Regions from separate parts of the Homo sapiens genome. Here region 1 is linked to region 2. A link means that fine-mapping ties the variant in region 2 to the expression of a gene that starts in the linked region. Tissue or cell type: esophagus muscle. Region 2 holds a variant in brackets; the other region holds the start of a gene. All regions are shown on one strand. Distances are from middle to middle.

Region 1 (2,605 bases), 40 kb before region 2:
AGACGACTCTTTACCTCCTCTCAGGGTGTTAAAAAGTGCAGTTCTTCCAAATTCTTTCCCTCTAGAGAGCACAATGACAATATTAGTTCAGACTTCCAAGGTGTTGAAGAAAGCCCGCCTCTGCATCTTGAAAGCTGATTCCTATATCCAGCAACATTGAAGAAGACTGCAGATCACTCTGGGTGTCAACTGCATGTACCTACATCCATCGCACCAAGATTCTTGAGTGCCAATCACAGAAACCCACCTGGAAGTCAGGTCCAGCTCCAAGGATGGTTTAACTGCCCCCTTCCCTTTGCCCTCTAGCCAGACCCTGGTGAGGGTTCCAGCCAGCAGGGTGACCCCACATCCCAGTCGACCCCGGACAGGCCCCAGGCCCGTTGTCCCAGGTGGAGTTGACAGCCCCCTCATGCAGAAGGCTGTGTGTGGACTGGCGCTGCCCCTGCAGGCCAACACTGGGAGACCAGGGACCCGCATTCGCCTGCAGCCAGCCTCACACTTGCGCAGAAGCCGCCACTGGGCCCAGGGCCAGTCCAGACCCCATCCCCAGGGCCGGCCAGCCTCTGTGACCCGTCTGTCAGGGGAGGGGCAGCACTGATTTCCAAGGATGCAGCCCGTATCAGGGCCTCCTGGCACCTGCCCTGCGCTGGAAGATTCTTCTAGTCTCCCGGCCCCAGTGTCAGAATTCTGAGAACTGGCCGGGCGCGATGGTTCACTCCTGTAATCCCAGGACTTGGGAGGCCAATGTAGGCGGATCACCCGAGGTCAGGAGTTCGAGACCAGCCTGGCCAACATGGTGAAACCCCGTCTCTACTAAAAATACAAAAAAATTAGCCGGGCGTGTTGGCGGGAGCCTGTAATCCCAGCTAAAGAGGCTGGGGCAGGAGAATCACTTGAACCCGGGAGGCAGAGGTTGCAGTGAGCTGAGATTGCGCCACTGCACTCCAGCCTGGGCGACACAGCAAGACTCTGTCGAAAAAAAAAAAAGAAAAGAAAGCTGAGAATTAGGAGGAACTGCAAACCCTTTCCAGGCGCCCTTTGCAGTGCTAACACGCCCCGGGTTGCACGCGCAACCAGCCAAAAGCCGCCAAACTCTGCTTCTTGACATCCTTCTCTCACACTGCACAGCTTTCAAAACGCCAGAAGCCCTGCTCTGCACAGCGGCTCCCCTGTCTGCGGACTGGGCCGTTCCGTTCTGGACCCAGGCCGGAGGCCGTGGGCTGCACCGCTCCAGGAGGCCAGGCTGGCGCGCGCCCGAGGCCGGGGCTGAGGGGGCGGCGCGGAACTCGGGCCGCGTGCGGGAGCGCCACACGCCCGCCAGGGGGCGCCGCCCGCCCGGCCCCGCCCCGCCCCGGCCCGCTCCGCACGCTCCGCTCCGCACGCTCCGCTCCGGGACGCCGACGGCGGCGGGCGCTTCCGTCTCGCGGGCCTCGGCCCGGTGCGAGCGGCTCCGCGATGTGGCTGAGCCCGGAGGAGGTGCTGGTGGCCAATGCGCTGTGGGTGACGGAGCGGGCCAACCCCTTCTTCGTGCTGCAGCGACGCCGGGGCCACGGCAGGGGCGGCGGCCTTACGGGTGAGAGGCGCGCGGGCGGCCGGGCCTGTGGGCGCCGCGGCTGGGCTGGCGGCGGGGCTGGCGGCGGGCGGCGGGCGGGTCCGGTTCCGGCCCGGCCTCGGCGCGTCGCGGCGGACACGCACGCCAGCGCGCGGCGGGGCGGGGGCGCGAGGCCAGGACCCGGGAGCCGGGCGCGGAGGGGCCGGGGCGGGGAGGCGAGGGGCTGGCGGGAGGCGAATGCGCCCTCGGCGGGCTCTCCTCAGGTCGGCTTGGGGCGGCCAAGTGGAGACCGGCGGCGGCTTCTGCCCGGATTCGGCGCCCGCGAGCCCCGGGGGCCGTGCAGCTTCCCGGGATCTCACCGCCGAAAGTTGGCGAGACCGCCCTGTCCTCATCCTCCACCTCAGTTTCCCCAGGTGCCTCTAAGGGGCCAGGTGACGCCAGCGCACGTTTTCTTTTGCCCTCTTCTTCGTGCCCATCTCACCAAAGTATCGCCCTTTTAGCAAGATCAGAGGTCCCTGGAGCTGGCCGCACCCCCATTCCCCCAGCTTCTCCTCCCCCACCTTTCCTGCTCCTGGCTGCTCTCAGAGCTGCGCACCCAAGGCTGTGGGTAGCGGCACAGGGTGTTCCTGCAAGCTCGCCAAGGTGGCCCTTTGTGGGCCCGGGTGCCACCATCACACAGGATGAAGCTGGACAGGCACCCTTGGAGTCGTGCGGCCTGTGGGATCCAGGGGAGGCCCACAGGCCACTCCCTCCGCAGGTGGTGTCCGGGGCCCCTCATGCTCCAGGGCCTGCGCCCAGCACTGCAGGAGCCCGGCTGGCTCGGGCTCAGTGCCTGTGCTCTTCGGGGCACCGACTGTTGCCCTACAGGATTGCGGTCCCAGTGTTGCCAGGTCGTCCAGTTTATCAAGAGCATTTTCTGTGAATCATCCTGATTTTCAGTGTGAGCAGCTAATAGCCAGATGCAGACGGAGGCTTCTCCTGGGCCACGTTTCTTCATGTGGAAGAGACTGTTCTGTTCCCAGAAACACTCAGTGTTCCCTTCAGCTTCGGGTT
Region 2 (2,752 bases):
GCAGGTGGAAATCCTGGGCTGGGCACTCTGCTGTGGCTGGACCTGCCCCAGGTCCCTGCTGTCGCTTTGCCATCTGAGGTTAGCAGCTGCCCTCAGAACCGACCCCGGGGATGTTTAGAATACTGGGGCTGAGCTTCACCCGAGGAGATTCTCACTTGATTGCCTGTGATGGGGCCCAGACCTGTGGTTTTTAAAGCTGGCAGGCCATTGCTCTGTGCCTCCAGAGCTGAAGGCTCTTGACATAGCTGTTCTCGTTTGTGGCTGGCTCACCAGAGAGGCCGTGGTAGGACAGACCCCACTGGGCCTGGTCCCAGGGTTGAGAGCATGCGGGGCTACCCTGAGACTCCTGAGCCTCCTCAGCCTGCCCTGCCCTGTCCTGTCCAGACACAGAGAACACTTGGGCTCTGCTGGGCTTGTGGCCCATGCCCGCTACACTCACCCAGGACCATGCGATCCGCAACCCTGGGTACTGCTTGGTGACCTCCAGCAAAGACTGCACTGAATGAGGCCGGCCAGCACGCACAACGCGGCCCGACCTCTGAGCTACCCAAAGGGAGAGCAGCAAGTTGCCTGTGCGTGGCTGGTTCCTGTGCGCCCATAGGAGCATGAAACGCCCCCAAAGGGCCCACTGGCCAGATGGTCACTGGGGCAGGCGGGCAGCTGCCATTCACTGGACTCCTAATTGTGTTGATTGGATTTTTACCTGGGACATGTATTTCCTTTTCAAACACAATGTCAAAGTCAGGAAAGCGGCTGGATGCAGTAGGAGGCCCAGGCGGGTGGATCACTTGAAGTCAGGAGTTGGAGACCAGCCTGGCCAACACGATGAAACCTGTCTCTACTAAAAATACAAAAATTAGCTGGGCGTGGTGGTGTGTGCTTGTAGTCCCAGCTACTTGGGAGGCTGAGGCGGGAGAATCACCTGAACCCGGTAGGTGGAGGTTGCAGTGAGCCGAGATCGTGCCATTGAACTCCAGCCTGGGCAACAAGAGCAAAACTCCAGGCTGGGTGCGGTGGCTCACGCCTGTAATCCCAGCACTTTGGGAGGCTGAGGTGGGAGAATCACTGTAGCCCAGTAGGCGGAGCTTGCAGTGAGCTGAGATCATGTGACTGCACTGCAGCATGGGTGATAAAGTGAGAGTCC[A/G]TTAAAAAAAAAAAAGCTGAGGAAAGTAACAAATAACCAGAACCAATCATCACCATCAAAACTATTACCGGGCACTGTCATGGGCAGGTGCTGGGACTGGCCAGGCTCGTGGGCAGGGAAAGCAAGGCTCTGCCCAGGGCTGGAGGGAACTTACTCTGAGAGGATCTCCTTGTTTCCTCCTGCCCTCACTCTGCCTTCTCTCCAAGCACAGCTCTGAGCCCAGAGGAAGCCGAGTCAGCCCTGGAGGCGGCCCATTATTTCACAGAGGACAGCTCCTCAGAAGGTGAGCGGCCACTGGAACACCCGACATGCCCAGCCAGCACTCTGCAGCCACCGCCGCCTTCCTGTGGGGCTCGGGCAGTGGCCAGCAGTCCCACCTGGGCTCAGGGAGCAGGCCGCATGGGGTTCTCCCCAGGGGACCACGGGCTGGGCTCTGCCATGCTGGCGGGGGCTGGGGCCGCCCCCTGTGGATGTCCTCACTCCTGTTTCTCTTGTGTCTCTGTCTTCCTGGACCTTGGCTCCTCCCCACTCTGCCCCTCTGCCTCTCCTCTGCTGTCCCTTCCAGCATCTCCTCTGGCCTCAGATCTGGATCTTTTCCTGCCCTGGGAGGCTCAAGGTCAGTCCCTGGAAGGCAGGGGCGCCCCCTGTACCTCCTAACACTCTTCCTGCACTATCAGGAAGCCTGGAAGCTCTTTGTCCCAGGGACCTCTCTGGGACTTCATCCTCTGGGGCATAAGTTCTGAGAAGGACCCAGAAGCAAGCCACTCCTCTGCACCGCCTCCGTGTCTGCTGTAGGTGGGCGGTAAATAAGGCCCCCACACTAGGCGCCAAGCAGGCCCAGGGCAAGGCCTCCACAGCCACATGTTAGAGACATTCTGTCTTCCTGTGAGTAGGAAACAAATACAAAATGCTGTCATTGGAGCGTGTGAAAGACACAGTGTGGCTGAGTGGGGGCTGGAAAGAATAGTGGATGCTTTCCTAGGAAAAATCTTCATGTTCCACGTCACGTTTTTTGTTAAGGAAAAACACGCATGTTGAGTGCCTGTTAGAACTCATCCCTGTGCTATGTTTAAAGCCTGTTGGGAGCATCTGATCCCAGGTGATGGGAGCATGCTAGGCCCTGGGCTTTCGCAGTCGAGCTGGTGACATGCAGCACACTTGCAAAACCGACCATAATGCCACCTGGTGGTTTCACATGGGGGATAATGCACACCAAGGAACCGACTCAAAAGAGAACCAAAAATAGTGTGTACCAAGATGCCCATGGCAGTCCTGGTGACAGTGGCAGAGGCTGACTTGAGCTTGAGGACCTTGATTTCAAGGACAGAAACTACAGAAGCAGGTACACCTTCTGTTGTACATGGAACCAGCAGGCCACTCTAGGCTTGTCCCGCATGCTTCTGGGAGCGGCATGTTGGTGCAGAGCCCTGGCCTCAGACCGCATGTGGCCCCCAGGAAGCAGGGCCTCCATTCCAGGGTGAGTTGCCTGAGCCCAGAGAGGTGTGCCCTTCACTGCCACCAGACAGCCAGCGAGAGCAGCTCAGAACTGGGGTGCTGCCGACCTGCCTGAGGTGCCCCCACCAGCCACACTGCCTTTGGGGAACAGCT

The links. PIP is the estimated chance that this variant, and not a neighbour inherited with it, causes the effect.
Region 1: it holds the start of TBC1D9B, and the variant in region 2 is fine-mapped to the expression of TBC1D9B in esophagus muscle (GTEx, PIP 0.92).

The regions. Positions count from the first base shown.
Region 1 is chr5:179,906,672-179,909,276 of GRCh38, reverse strand. It overlaps TBC1D9B (TBC1 domain family member 9B), which reads left to right and starts at 1,380. Exons shown (of 21, transcript NM_015043.4): 1 at 1,380-1,573. The coding sequence starts at 1,456. RefSeq lists silencers at 1,229-1,388, 1,459-1,518, 1,529-1,668, 1,719-1,768 and an enhancer at 1,649-2,426.
Region 2 is chr5:179,866,453-179,869,204 of GRCh38, reverse strand. TBC1D9B (TBC1 domain family member 9B) reads left to right here. Exons shown (of 21, transcript NM_015043.4): 18 at 1,356-1,427. Among named protein-coding and RNA genes, the nearest start is that of MRNIP-DT, 8.8 kb to the right of the region's middle. RefSeq lists an enhancer at 1,532-2,058. The variant A/G (reference allele first, on the strand shown) is at 1,145.